2 separate regions of the Homo sapiens genome follow, and region 2 is linked to region 1. A link means that fine-mapping ties the variant in region 1 to the expression of a gene that starts in the linked region. Tissue or cell type: whole blood. Region 1 holds a variant in brackets; the other region holds the start of a gene. All regions are shown on one strand. Distances are from middle to middle.

Region 1 (7,917 bases):
CGTGGCAAAACCCTGTCTCTACTAAAAATACAAAGATTAGCCAGGCATGGTGGCACCCGCCTGTAAACCCAGCTACTTGGGAGGCTGAGGCAGGAGAATCGCTTGAACCTGGGAGGCAGAGGTTGCAGTGAGCCGAGATTGCGCCACTGCACTCCAGCCTGGGCGACAGAGTGAGACTGTGTCTCAAAAAAAAATAATAAATAAAAATAAAGGCTGTAGATATTAGAAATGAATAATATCTAAGAGATGCTTCCATACTCATTTTTAGGATGTTCTGAGGAAGGAAGAGGCCAACATGGTCAGTTTTATATGAAGAGAAGATTTTGTTCCAAAGGAAATGATGGGGAAAAGCCCAGCTTGGGGAGGGGTCAGGGAACAGTGGGCAAGTGGGAAATGAGTCCACCTTCTGCCAGGAAGCCCAAGGGGGCATGTCTTTGAGCTGCAAAAGAACAGGTCCACAAATCATAGCTGAGATTGGCCCAGCGGTAGGAAAAGCAACACAGAATCAATTTAGTGTGGTTGAAGCTTGTGCGATGACTCGGGCTATCACGCTCCTCAGGGCCTGAATCATGGGACACAATGGATCCGCCAGCTTATTCCGGCATCCTTTAACTCTTGAGGAGCAAATGCCCTGGCAAGGAATCCGTCAGAATCTCCTTCCCCTCCTGCTGCTGCGTGCAGTGGGCCGTGCCCTGGTGAGGTTCCTGTGTCCTCTGTAGAAGGTAACAGATTAGAAAAGCAGAAGTCCCTTCTCTGTCTAGCATCCTTCCACCTTCTTCTCCTCATCTGCAAAATGGGGATGAAACACATAACCCCAGGGTTGGGAGAAAGGTCTGACACAGAGGCAAGTGTCAGTGAACGTTTGAGAACTCTGAAGCGGTGATGGAAATGGGGTATTCCTGGTAACCAGCACCCTCTCTGACCCACGTGGTAGTTATCCTTTTGCCAAAATGTGTGACTCTCTTAATACATTTTGAGTCTCTAGGGAAAAAAAAAGGCAAACTTAATTCCTACTAATATATCACTCACTGTGTTCTCTACCTTTTACGCTTTCTTTTCCAGGTGGTAACAGAAAACAATCCAGATGGGGTGCAGGTGCTGTAAAATAATACAAAGGTAAAGCTGGAGAAATACTACTTCTAAATGGAGGAATTTGTGATGAGCGTGGGGTCACTTTTAAAGACCATGCGTGTATTCAGTGCATTTATCCAGCTTGGGGCATGATCAACATTGCCAACACATTAAGAGTTTGGAATTGTTATAATATCATTTAAAAGAACATGTGCCCTAGATTTTTTTAACTTTTTTTGCTCACTTCTCAAAGCATGTTGGGAACACCATCATTTTCTGAGGCTGAATTTGGTCTGGGTTTCTGAGGATGCCTGAAATGGCATCGCTGAAAATAAATCACCCCAATCACATATGTGCTTTTAATTTTGTCCACATTGCATTTCAGAAAATTGTGAGTAACGTGAACATAAACTTCTAACTAAGAAAAAGGGTAACTGATGATCTTGCTTTCTTAACAAATATACTGTCTTTTTAATCATAGTTCTATTCTAGACCTATATATAAATAAGCTGTATTCCACTGTAATCATACTGTGATGTTTGGCTTTATTCAAAAACTATGTATTGTAAGTATCATTCCTGTGACTACAGACTTCATATTTATCATTTTAGTGACTGCATAATATTCCACTGAGAGGATATACTCCTTATGGCCCTGTTAGTGGACATTTGTTTTATTTGTTTTTTATTTTAAAATTCTATGAACCACTTTGTATTTTACTTCACCCCTTACCCCTCCTTCCTCCTTTTGGCTCTCTTCTTAAGAGTATTTCAGGCAGAACCTTGTTTATCTTTTTCAAGACTGTCTCGCTCTGTCATCCAGGCTGGAGTGCAGGGGCGTGATCTCAGCTCACTGCAGCCTCCGCCTCCCAGGTTCAAGCGATTCTCCTATCTCAGCCTCCCGAGTAGCTGGGATTACAGGTGCCTACCACCTCACCCAGCTAATTTTTGTATTTTTAGTAAAGATGGGGTTTCACCATGTCGGTCAGGCTGGTCTCGAACTCCTGACCTCAAGTGATCCACCCGCCTTGGCCACCCAAATTGCTGAGATTACAGGCGTGAGCCACCAAACATTTTTATACCAACTATATCTATTTGATTTAGACATACTTATCTAGGTTGAAAAGTAATCACAGAAATTAAATTAGCAGGAATCGTAGAAAGAAGCAGGGCCTGTGGTAAAAAGCATTAATGATGGAGCAGACCTGACTGGTTTTCATTGTCTTTCCTGAAGCTATCTCTTTGATCCAGTTCAAGTGCCCTCTCCTGGCTATGTCAATGAAGTCAACAGCTGCAAGCTAGATGAAGACGACACTGATAAATTAAAAGGCAAATGGAGCAGTGAAGTCTTGGTGCAGAAAAATGACCCTCAGAGGCAGGGCTCAAAGAAGACTGAGAGCAGCAGCAGGACAGCTGATCCATGGGAGCCCTGCTGGCCTCACCAAGGGCCGCTCCCACAGGGGGACGCTGGAGGGGAACACCATGCCTGCGGTGTCAACGGCATCGGCCCTGCTGCCACTCCACAGCCCACTGGGAATTCCAGCCCCACCCAGGATGACAGGGGCTCCTGGGCCAGTACTGCAAATACTGTTCCCCCAACTCAACCCTTCCTGGAAGGAGGGGGCACCAGGAAACAGGACTGTGTGCTGCTGGCCTCAGAAGGGACCCAAGTCATGAGAAATGGAGACTCCAGAGCTCCTTCTGAGGCAGAAAGTTTTGCCTTGGAAGTACAAGACCATGTCTTCCAGATACCAGCCCCAGATTACCTTCAGCATTGGGGCCCAGCTGGAGACAACGTTGATCATAATGAAAAGGACTGTGTTTTCAAGAACCATACTGAGGATGAATCCCTAGAGGGAATTCAGCCCCCAGTGGGGGAGCATGGTTTGAATACGCCCTTCTCTGTGAGGAGAAGCTGGGATTCATTGAATGAGGATGTGGAAACAGAAGTTCTAAGCATCTGCTTTAATGAGAAGGGTCCTGTTCATGCCATGCCTGTGGTTGACTCAGGAAACAGGCAGGAGGATACCCATGGCTCCGATGGAGATGGGGATGGGGAGATTGTGGACGAGGATGCAGCGGTGGCGGAGGCCCTTGCAGCTTTAGAAGCTGCTACTGCAGGAGAAGATTTGGATGAGACTGATTAGGGGAGGGGATTTGCACAGGGAGGTAAGCTGGTGTCATGCTGAGCATGCAGATGCATTTGCTCCCTGGATGCATAGCAGGTGATTCTGCCAGCATGCACCAGTGCAGCCTTACCAGTTGTTTACATCCAGCATCTGTTCTGATTGTCAGCATCTGTCCCATGCTGCTTGTCACATATCTGGAGTTTCACTCTGTGTAGATGAGCTGTCATTCAGGACACTAGGAGAAAAATCTGAGTGGGTCATTGTGCCCATATCCACAGAAAATGCAGAAGTTGAACAGCTTGCTTGACAACCCTCAAACATCTTTGAGCACCTGGTACAGATGTTTATGAGAATACTCTAAGATCTCAACCCTTGATCCCAAAGGCACACAATCACAGAGCATTCCTTTTGACTGTAAACTGTTTACCTTGCTTTTGAGAGCCAAACATTGTACCCAACCTGGAAAAAGTAACTACCCCAATTAAAGTGCCTCATGTGTCCCCAGAGCATGGCTTAACTTCAGGGACAATCACCCAGGGAACTAATAACTAACCAGTTGTTCAACAGC[G/A]GGTTAAGCTCAGCAGTTTTCACAGTAGAGCAGAAGTCCCCAGGAAACAAAGGGTTAGTCATTAGCTGAGATGTTGATTTTAAAACACCTTGACCTTAACTTTTTTACATTATTACTTTTAAATCTCCTTTGGGATTGGGGAGGCTGGCCAAAATAAGTCTTAAAACTGCTTATGTCATATTTGGATTTTAAGTTCATGACATTCGGAACAGCAAAGCCATATATGCAATGTTTTTATGCCATTAAATGTCTGATTCCAATTAAAATATAACAACGTATGTGTCTTTCTAGAAGTCTTAACTCAAAGGTGGTTCTAATTTTCTCAGAATATCAGTGACCCTGGATGTTACTTTCAATGTAAAGAACTAATCTAGATGGCCGGGCGTGGTGGCTCATGCCTGTAATCCCAGCACTTTGGGAGGCCGAGGCGGGTGGATCACAAGGTCAGGAGTTCAAGATCAGCCTGGCCAACATAGTGAAACCCTGTCTCTACTAAAAATACAAAAAATTATCCGGGCACGGTGGCGGGCGCCTGTAATCCCAGCTACTTGGGAGGCTGAGGCAAGGAGAATCACTTGAACCTGGGAGGTGGAGGTTGCAGTGAGCTGAGATCGTGCCACTGCACTCCAGCCTGGGTGACAGTGCAAGACTCCATCTCAAAAAAAAAAAAAAAAAAAAGAGCTAAGCTAGGCACAGTGGCTCATGTCTGTAATCTGAGCACTTTGGAAGGCTGAGGTGAGAGGATTGCCAGGGCCAGGAATTCGAGACCAACCTGGGCAATTTAGCGAGACCCCATCTCTATGAAAAAAAAAAAAAAAAAAAGAGCTAGACTACAAAATTATACTCAAGGAAGGGACCGAGCTGGTTTGCAGAGCCATAGCTTTGGCTTTCTCTCTGTCAAACTTGATGCCATAACTAAATGTCCTGATCTTACCTCAAAGATGAACAAGCCCTCTCTGGATTTCAGCCTTCTAATTCACTGAAACAAGGACAACCATTCTAACGTAACTCAATGGAGAATTTAAAGGCATTAAGGATGCTCAAAACTATCTAGAAAAAAATAAACATGGAAGATGCTTTAGTTTGGTGTTTTGTAACACAGAATTGAAATCTGACTGAACTTCATTTGATTTCCAGCTTTGCCATGTGACCTTGGACAAGTTATGTATCCCTTTACCCATCTGTAAAGTGAGAAGAATAATTGTATGTGCTTGTAAAGGTTAAATGAGATGATGTAAGTGTTTAGCACAGTGCTTGGCACACTAGGCACTCAAAAATGATGTTTTACTAGTTGAAAACAATTCCTTTAACAAACATTTTTACATCCCCACAACTGAAAACTCTAAAACTGGGAAGTATGTATAATGTCATTATTTGACTTTGGCAATTATTTAGTATAAAACATGATTTCTGAGCCTTCCAGCACCTTTAAGGACGGCACCCTTACAAATGCTTAATGAGCCTATGGGTTTGTTTGGTACTGTAATGACAAGCCATCGCAAGTGACCTCTATATACAGGGTCACTCAGAGCCCTTAAAAAGATAAAGTCTTGGCATTGTTAATTGCATTAGAGGTATGTCTCCTTTTGTATTTAGTACACCAAATACTTAATATTTCAGAATGCTTATTCCTTCAATGATTTCCTAAGTGTATCAGTTGAGATTATGTTCAGTTGTATGGGACGAGTGTTTTATACAAATAGAGGCTTATTTACCTCTTATGTAAAAGAAGTCTGGAGTTAGTGATCCAGGGTGGTAGAGAATGTATCACTGGCCCGTGTATCAATGACCCACATATCAATGACCCACGTATCAATGACCCGCATATGAATGACCCATGCTGCTTCAATCATTTTGGTTTCCTTCTCAAGATCACTTTGTAGTCCATAATGGCTGCTGTGGCTTCAGTCATTACATTTGCATTCCATGTTGGAAAAAGAATAAAGGAATAAAAACCCCACTCACTCTCTATTAAGGACCCCACAGAAGTATAATTCATCCCTTCCACATTACTCTCTTTGGTCAAAATCTGGTCACTTGGCCACATCTAGCTGCAAGAGAGACTAGGAAATCGTCTTGCTAGTGGTGTGCGTGGCTTTGCCAAATAAACTCAGAATGCAGTTACTAAGAAGGGGAAATGGACAATGAGTTTCGAGGCGGTCAGTTTACAGTCTCTGCCACAGGAGGTCTCAAAACCCAAAAGCCTGGGATACAGCTGGTTTCAAAAGATTGGAAGATCGTGTGTACATTCAGTGTGACACCAAAGGGGCTTCCACCTTTGGTCCGGGGGAAGGAGGACTGGACAGCTACCGCTGCTCCAACTTCCCATTGATAACTCCAAACCGGACGAAAAGAAGAAATTCAGACAAAGAAGGGGTAGGGTAAGGTATCAGGGCAGACAAGTCTCTTTCTCTTACCCAGACACACACTTTCGCATTTATATATGTATATAATTTTACATCTTAGAACAGCTGCAGAGTTCACCATAACTGACAGCTCTGTAGTTTTAAAGATTCTCTTTTATGAATAACTGCTTTGAAAAGGTCGACAGATGGCCAATACTTTCAAGAGTTCTTTAAAAGTAATTCTGGCCCCTTTCATCTTTACTCCAGTATCCAGGATCCCCCAAAGGAAATGAAAGTAAAAAATCTTTAGGTTGAAAAGTAATTCCAGCTTTTAGCCTTATCTACCAGGTTGTCTAACAGTGAGCTGTCTGAGCACGCTTATGTGTGTAGTGTCTTCTTTCTGCAGCCTAGTGCCACCTCTTGTCAGAAAAGTGATGTTGAAAATAGCCAACCTTTTCAAACATTGTGGACAATATGAAAGCACAATGCACTCTGATTGGAAGGCACTAACTGTGATTAGGGGCAGACTTCACAGTTCCCCATGAACCTTAGGCAATTGCATCACGTGGATATTTACCATGTTAAATCCTGATTTTGAATTAAGATTATTTTATGTATATATTACATATAGGTTTCTTGAGCTAAGAAGTTAGATTTAACTTTTTACTGGGGGAAAATGAACTATCATATAAATATGAAATTAAATTTTTTCCCCTCATTGCCAAAGCAGATGTAGTGAATAGTTATAACTGGAAAAACCAGATACCCAAAAAAACGAAGAGAATTTTAGGTTTCTTACATAGCACATGCCCATCTGTCCATGCTCAGTAAGTGCTGGCCATTCGTCATTTTCCTCCCTCTGCCCCGCTCTGTCTCTCTGATTCTCTTCTCTTCCTACCTCTCCCATCCGTACCTCCAAGCAGGAGGCCTTAGAAAGAATGAATGAGACACCAGATGCAAGTGCAAGTGCAAAGATCTCCTGACTTCCCTGGTTTGGTCGTCTGTGTGCAACCATGCAGCAGATAGAGCACAGTCACTACTGCAGCACAGGATATAGCCTCCTTTCCTGGACTTGGACTTAACTCTTCATCAAGGGCACTGCTTTTCACACAACCAGGCTTTATGACGAAAACGTAGAAATTAATTGCTTTCTGGTCTTGTTTCATTTTTTTTCTCTAGATTAAACCTCATGCATTTTTAAATCCTCTATTTTGGAGTTGGTGACAAACACAGACAAGCTGACATCTGTTTTTCATGGTAAATCCTTTCCCTGTTAACTAATAGAACAATAAGTCATTCATTTATAGATTTACTAAATTTGTAAGTTTCTCATATGTATCAGGTTATACAAACCACACCTAAGTGGTCTGCTAACTTCTGAAGCACTCCCAGCCACTTTAAGAAACATTTTATGCAAGTCAATGTGTTGATCGTAGATGATGCTTACCTGCACATTTAGTCACTTGGAGTCAACTATTAGCAATTTTTTTCAACTGAAATATCTGTACTAAAAAAATGCGTTTGGCCTGAGATCTAAGTTAGTGTACGGCACAAGGGGGGAACTCAATACATATTTGTTGATTGAAAGAATACATAAAAGAAGTCTGGAGTTAGTGATCTTTTCCCGGTCTGGTTGGGGAGATATCATGCAGGTAGCCAGGATTGTGCTGGATTGTGACATGGTGTAATAAAGGTATACATGGTGTAATAAAGGATGTGGGAGCACAAATCCATAGGAATTTGAGAGTTTAGGAATTGTATTTATTATTCAGGCCCTTCACTCTCAGACTACCCTGCTCTATTTG
Region 2 (7,917 bases), 95 kb after region 1:
CTTTGGTCTCTCACATTCAAATTCAACTCTTCAAATTTCCAAATAGATTCATTTCATTTCCATTTTTAGAGGGGGTAGGGGCAGGGAATTGACAGAGACTTCTCACATTTTTCATTTCCTTTTAAAATTAAATGTAGATATGGACTCCCAAGCTCCAAGGTGTGCTTTTTCAAAACTTTCCAAACACTATATATTATGTGGATGTACAGCTTCGCAGCTACCTGGCTAAGAGAGACCCCAGAATTTAATAAAGCTTATCTTTAGTTTCTAAAAAGGAGTCAGAATGCTGGAGGGAAGCCTGCAGCCCAAGGACAATGCATTTTTCATCTCACCAGCCCCAGGACCTCTTCCACCCACTCCTTACTCGAGGGCTATGCCCACTGTCTGAGAGAGAAACTAATAAACCTGAAGGTTGAGTAACCAGAGAACTTAAGGACATTAATAAGCCAAGACGTGGAAAATCATCCCTTTGGGTGCTTGTGGTATATAGTTTCGAATGCTGCTGCTAAGAGACAAGTTTAATGAGATTCTTCTACTAGGAAGGAAGTGAAAAAGGCATTGCCACTACCCACCGTGAAGCTATCTGCCCTTCTTTTCTCTACTTGACAACTTCTGATAACCACATGCTTACAATTTTATGACGTTCTAAACTATCTTAGAATCTCAGCGAGATTGCAGAGGTTGACTCATATTCTATTTTTCCTCTGCAGAGCAGTGGGGTACAGTGGAAAGGGAATGAACTTTGGAATCAAGCAGGCTGGGTTATCCCAGATAAAGATACATATAAAGGTACACACATACACAGACACCTCCTAGTGGTTCTGCTTCTCTGAATGCTGACTGGCACAGTACCTATGTGATGTTCAGCCAGTTGTTTAACCTCTCTTGCCTCAGTTGCCTTACTGGAAGTAAGTATTTCACAGGGTTATGAGCAATGAGTTTAAAAATGCCTATGAAGGCTGGGCGCGGTGGCTCACACCTGTAATCCCTGCACTTTGGGAGGTCGAGAAGGGCGGATCACTTGAGGTCAGGAGTTACAAACCAGCATAGCCAACATGGGGAAGCCCCGATTCTACTAAAAAATACAAAAATTTGCCAGGCATGGTGGCGGGCGCCTATAATCCCAGCTACTAGGGAGGCTGAGGCAGGAGAATTGCTTGAGCCTGGGAGGTGGAGGTTGTAGTGAGCTGAGATCGCACCACTGCACCTCAGCCTGGGAGTCAGAGCAAGACTCTGTCTCAAAAAACAATAAAAATAAAAATAAATAAACAAATAAAAATGCGGCCGGGCGCGGTGGCTCACGCCTGTAATCCCAGCACTTTGGGAGGCCAAGGTGGGCGGATCACGAGGTCAGGAGATGGAGACCATCCTGGCTAACACGGTGAAACCCCGTCTCTACTAAAAATATAAAAAATTAGCCAGGCATGGTGGCGGGCGCCTGTAGTCCCAGCTACTCTGGAGGCTGAGGCAGGAGAATGGCGTGAACCCGGGAGGCGGAGCTTGCAGTGAGATCGCGCCACTGCACTCCAGCCTGGGCGACAGAGCAAGACTCCGTCTCAAAAAGAAAAAAATAAATAAAAATAAAAATGCATACAAAGTACTCAACCCAAAGCCTGGCACACAGCAGGCACTCAACAGTATTTCCCATTCCTTTCCCTCTACTTCCCTATGCTCAAGGTACAAACATTAACACCATCTTTGGTTGCAAGGGGATCAGATGTTGGCTGGTCAGAGCATCTTCTCTTTACACACGCCTCAAGATACTGGCAAATTTGTGCTCTGTATCCTTTCCTTTTTAGACACCTGTTTCTTCTTCCGCATTAATTTTCATCAAAAAAAAAAAAAGGCTGTCATGCAATTAGATGAGAGCTTTCATCAGTCACATTCTAGTCCTGAGACCTGGGTGTTGCTCAGAGGTCAAACCAAACACACACCCACTCTAGGGATGGATTTCTCCTGCTGATGATGGCTAATTACATGCATCATGTGCTGAATTTTTAATAATTTTACTCCCAGATTAAACTCTTCCCCAGATTCTGTTGCAACTGACTCTAACCCTCTAATGAATGTCTCCAACCTCACATCCAAGTGGAACCTGATTATGCACCTATGTGTCCCAGCAATCAAACGCAGGATGAAAATCAAAATGAACCAGCAGGGCATGGTGGCTCATGCCTGTAATACCAGCACTTTGGGAGGCCGAGGCAGGAGGATCACTTGAGGTCGGGAGTTCGAGACCAGCCTGGCCAATATGGCAAAACCCCATCTCTACTAAAAATACAAAAATTAGCCGGGCATGGTGGCACATGCCTGTAATCCCAGCTGCTCAGAAGGCTGAGGCAGGAGAATCACTTGAACCAGAGAGCTGGAGGTTGCAGTGAGCCGAGGTTGTGCCACTGCACTCCAGTCTGGGTGACAAAATGAGCCCCTGTATCAAAATAAGGAAAAGAAAAAAAAAATTGTCCCATCCAGTAAAACATGTCACTAGCTGCCATTTCCCCAGGTGGATGGCTAACGGAAATACGGGCCTGCTAAAAAGACTCAGGAGACAATATTATCCATCTCCTTCCCTTCCAACCTGCTCTGGTTTCTATGAAAAAGTGAAGGCCAAACTGCTAAGTCAGTGTAAAAGTTGTAAGCGACTGAAATGTTCTCAGGAGGAAGAGTTTATGGATGTTTATGGAGGAGACAGTCACTGTTGAAAGGCTTCCAGTTGCTTATTATTTGGGCCTGAGGAGGAACCACCGCTGAAATCAAGCTTGGAAGAGCTTGCTGACGTCAGATTCCCAGCTGTAGTAACCCCAAATGGCCAAGTAAGTATGTTTTTTTTTTAACTGCAGCTGTTAGGTGGCAATTAAGAGGGGAAGCGGTGGTAAGGAATCCCTAGTGTCTGTAATTATAAAAGCAAGGATGTGACATAGGACTTCCATAAAACTTACACCTCCTCTTAAGATTGATTTCAATTAAAAACTGCTTCATCGTTGGTGACACTTTAGCATCTCTGTTGGTGGCTTCCTGCCCTGACCACACAAGGTTCCTTTCGTGACGACAGGAATCAACAAAAAGAAGAAAAAAATGTAAGTTTACCAACGCGCCTTCCCTTTTTCCGAGCCTGATTTATACAGGATATATGGGAAGAAATGTGGACTCCTTGACCTGTTACAAGAATCCATCAACCACCCAAATAAATGGAAACGTGGAAAGAGATTCAAAGTCCTCCAGGTTTTAGGATATTTTAAGGTATTTAAAAGGGAGAAGGAGGCGCCGACAGCGCACCCGGTGCTCTGTGTCACGATCTTCCGCTCGCGGCGCCTTTGAGGACAAGGGCGGCGGGAAACGGGTCCGCGGGGTTCCGAGGCGAGCGGCCGTGGAGGAAGCGCCCCCGAAGAAGGCCTGGTCCCTACGCCCCGCACTGCCCAGCGCTGGGGAACACAGATCCTCGGAGGAGGCCCCAGGGAGGGAAGGCGGGAGCGGGGCCCGCGGGAGGGGAGGGACGGGAGCCGTTGCCACGCACCGCGCCCTGCCCGGACCGCCGCGGGACAGCCAGTTGTTCAGTGCCGGGATCCCGCGGCTGTGCCAGAAAGCAGGACGCCGCGGGGCTGCCGTCCCGACCCCTCGCTTCCTTCCGCGCTCCCGGGACCGGGCTCAGCACCCGGCGCCCCGGCTACGACCGGACACTCACCCGGAGCCACCAGCGGCGAACTCACGGCGCCTCCCACGAAGACAGCAGCGGCTAGGACGGCGGACCCCGGGAGTGCCCGCGGAGCCATCGCCGCGTCGCTTCGCCCTCCTCCCCCAGGGCGCCGCGTCCCGCGCTCGGGAAGGCAGAGCCGCTCCGGAGCCGGCGGGCTGATCGAGTGGCTGGGCTGGGCCCCAGGGAGCGGCGAACCCCGCCCCGCCATTGCCCCGCCCCACGCCACACCCACCTCGGCTCGGTCCCGCCTCTCCCCGCGCGCCCCGGGCTCCACCTAAGCCGGCACGAGGTCCACTCATGGCTCCGCCCCCGACTCCCCGCCCACCTCAGCCTGATCCCGCCTCTCCCTGCCATTCCCGCTTCCTTTCCAAACCCCGCAGCAGCCTCAGCGGCGTAGCTAGGCCATGGACACGCCCTCTTTCTCCACCCACCTCAGCTTGGCCCCGCCTCTCCCTACCGAGCCCCGGACTCCACCTAAGAAGGCACGTGGCCCATCCATGGCCCCGCCCTTTTCCCCACCCACAGCTCAGCCCGACCCCTCCTCTCCCGCTTCCTTTCCAAACCCAGCAGCAGCCTTGGCGGCGCAGTTAGGCTATAGCCCCGCCCTTGCGCCCTGCCCACCGTGGCCCGGCCGTGCCTCTACTTGCCAGGCCCGCTTCCTTTCCAAGCCGGGCCGGGATTACGCGGGAGCCCGGGGCGGGGGGAGGGTCGCCCGGGTGCAACCTCCCTCGGTCGCTGGGACTAGGCGGGCGTGGGAAGAGAAAGAGGGAGCGCGCCCCGAGAAGCACTGGACAGTCAGAAGCGGCCAGCACTGGAGTGAGCACAGGCTTTTTTCGCTGTTGGCATGTCTATCCACTAGCATTCCCCTCGGTTGCAGATCTAGGGAGTGATGCTGTGCTGGATGTCACGTTCTGTTGTTTGGAAATTAGCAGAAAAGATAACTTAAATTTCTTCCTCTGTTTGTTTGCATTTAAGCTGCTCCTATTGGGGAAAATACCTCTATGCATTTTCAGGAACAACTTGCCTTTTTTTTTTAATCGTGTGCTTGTATTGCACCTTGCGCATACTCCCGCAAAGTAGGTCTTTCAATGCCCAGACGCTTATTATCTCCTCACATCCTCACATCAGCTCTGCGAGGTGACTATTAGAGGCCAGGGAGTAAACCCACGATGTCTGGGCCACCATGATAAATTGTAATTATCTCATTGTCATTGTGTTTGCTCGCTGCTGTGCCCTCAGCGCCTGGATGGAGGACAGACAGCACACGCTAAGAGGTCAGAAGTGTTTTCTGAAGTTGAATCATCTTCACAAGCATTAATAGGACTCAGAGGCTCTCTCTGAATAGTTCCTTTTTACTGCCCTGTAGAGACTGTTGTTACTGGGCCATCAAGCATTTGCTTGAAGGAAATTAGGGCAGGACTTGAGCAAATACTCAACACCAGCAAGAAGAGGGGGTGCATGGAGGCTGTGGGTTTTCACAGGATGGGTCTCATCCTTGAGGTGACTGATAACCTCTAGTTTTCAGAGGACTATTTATTCTCTCACCGAGTCCTCCACGCAGTCTGCTGGACTATTATTACAAACATTGCATTGATGTGGGAATTGCCAGTGACAGAAGCTCAGGCCACTACAGTACAGATGGCTGAGGCTGAAGGATGGAGCCCCTGCCCTTTGAAGCCCAAGGAGGGCACTGCGCGTCCTGCGCTCAGTTGGCAGCGCATCCTACAGTCTGGCAGTCTTAGCAGGCAGCCTTTGCTAGTTTTATATCAACATAAACATTGAGAATGTGTGCGGAGGAAAGCGATCCATGTGGATTTCTAACTAAAACAGGAGAGAATCCCGGACCTAGAAATTAAACTATAAATTAGAAGTTGTAGCCAGAACCAGCTATAAAATTTGCAGGGCACAATGCAAAATGAAAAGGCAGGGCCTTCTGTTCAAAAATCGTTAAGAATTTCAAGATGGCAACAACACAACATTAAATCGATTGTGGAGCCCTCCTAAACACACAGTTGCACAGGTCACACACTTATAAAGCCAGCTCTGGTTTTGTAAGTTAGAATGTAACAAAATGCTTGAATCAAGAAATCTAATCAAAATGTAAAATGTCATTTCAAAATTGAATCATGTTTCACTCTTTTCCCACAGATTGGACTTAGTATTAAAAAGATGGGATCGTTTTTGGCTGGGCGCAGTAGCTCAAGCCTGTAATCCCAGCACTTTGGGAGGCCGAAGCAGGCAGATCACGAGGTCAGGAGATCGTAGACCATCCTGGCTAACACGGTGAAACCCCATCTGTACTAAAAATACAAAAAAGTAGCCAGGCGTGGTGGCGGGCGCCTGTAGTCCCAGCTACTCGGGAGGCTGAGGCAGGAGAATGGCGTGAACCCGGGAGGCGGAACTTGCAGTGAGCCGAGATTGTGCCACTGCACTGCAGCCTGGGCAACAGAGCGAGACTCCGTCTCAAAAGAAAAAAAGAAAAAAAAAAAAGAAAGACGGGATCATTTTTAACAACACATTTGAATTGTATATCTGTTATGGCTCTTCAAATATAAAAATCTAGTACTTAAGCCTTACCCATTATCTACCAGGCCCTTTGTTTTACAGATGAGAGATGGTTAAGTGATCTGCCTGACATATCTACTATGAGCCAGGGTTGAAACCCAGGGCTCTGAAATTTCTCTTCCTAAACTTTCCATAACACCTGCTTGACACACTCTCTATAAATGTCTTACTTTCACGTACCCCGTATACATGCATTTGTATGTCTTGTTAAAGGAATGAAGGAAGGGTAGGAGGAAGAGAGGGGGAGGGACGGAGGAAAGTGAAGAAGGGAAGGAGAGAGGAAAGAAAGAAAATCAAGCTTAAATTATTTTCCATATCCTTAACCCTACAGATTTATTCATACAATTTAAATAGCTTCTACATATGTATATCTAAAAATCCACTGTTTTATTTTAAAAGTAAGAACCCCAATGTAATGGAACTTCTATTCTCTATTATGAAGGGAATGTCATATTTCTTCTGAGGACATAAAATGGAAATCTTAAAACTAAGTTGTATTTCCATTTTTTCAGAAACAAAAGTAGAGTTTTAATAATTCTTAAGAATAACTGTCATTAATTAAAAACAATAATCCTCATTCTGCCCTTAGATTTAGCCCAATCCTATGGTGGGAACTCTTTTTGTATTCTTTCATCAATTCCTCACAATGATTTTATATTTAGGGAATCATTGTTAACACTCCTCACTTCAAAGCTGAGGGATTAGGGCATTTACCTGAGTCACATGGCCTCTCCCTGGCACCACCAGGATGCAAATCCAGGATCAGCTCCCTTGGGCCCACACTTGCAACCTCCTCTTGCACTATTCTGCCTCTGAAATGCAGAACTCCAGCCAACTAGCTCCTCTTTTGCAATCTAAAGTATTGTTCTCATATTCCTTCATTGCATGTTTAACCTAGCCTTTTTGAACTCTGTTTCAACAATTGCTTACATATTTTTCCTCAGTGAGAATAATTTATTGATTGATGGGAATGGATTAAAAATCAGAGTGTATAGGATCAAATTTACAAACATATACAATGTGATGTCCTTTCTGATTTTCATTGTTTTCAGTTTCTCTGTAAGGATTCAGTTAATCATTCCCCTTAGTAGAAACCTTTCCTGTTTTCCTCTGAACTGCTAAGCTGGTGATTTTCATCACCATCATTTAAATGCATAAGCCTCACTAGGCTGGTATTTACTCTAATTAATGTTGAACATGCTTCCGCAGAAGGCCTCTGTAGGATTTCTTTTGTGATTTAGATGTACTCATCTCTCTTTTTGAGAGGTTATATGCAGGAGATAAGCTTACATTTCTTTTTAAAAAATATGTCTGAAGGGGAATAAAATATTTTACACAATCTGGGGCTATTTTGATATGACAACAGATATGTGCTGTGTTCCTAGTACTGGGCTGAGCATGAGGGGTTGGAGGGGAGAGTCACTACAAGCTTAAGAAAAAGATTCTAACTTTGCTTTTAAAGTTTTAAGCCTACCTGGGAGAAAGGGAACTGTTGCATAAGTGAACAGAAATGGCTGGCCAGGCGCGGTGGCTCACGCCTGTAATCCCAGCACTTTGGGAGACTGAGGCAGGTGGATCACGAGGTCAGGAGATCGAGACCATCCTGGCTAACACGGTGAAACCCCGTCTCTACTAAAAATACAAAAAATTAGCCGGGC

Evidence for each region. PIP is the estimated chance that this variant, and not a neighbour inherited with it, causes the effect.
Region 2: it holds the start of RELL1, and the variant in region 1 is fine-mapped to the expression of RELL1 in whole blood (TOPMed, PIP above 0.99).

What each region holds. Positions count from the first base shown.
Region 1 is chr4:37,587,784-37,595,700 of GRCh38, forward strand. It overlaps PGCKA1 (PDCD10 and GCKIII kinases associated 1), which reads left to right. Exons shown (of 4, transcript NM_001104629.2): 3 at 1,063-1,116; 4 at 2,305-5,727. The coding sequence starts at 1,085. The coding sequence ends at 3,217. It also overlaps a transcript of RELL1 not described here. Among named protein-coding and RNA genes, the nearest start is that of RELL1, 95 kb to the right of the region's middle. RefSeq lists enhancers at 2,053-2,553, 2,554-3,054. The variant G/A (reference allele first, on the strand shown) is at 3,768.
Region 2 is chr4:37,682,518-37,690,434 of GRCh38, forward strand. RELL1 (RELT like 1) reads right to left here and starts at 3,859. Exons shown (of 7, transcript NM_001085400.2): 1 at 3,683-3,859. The coding sequence starts at 3,770. RefSeq lists an enhancer at 257-306 and silencers at 3,398-4,067, 4,248-4,557.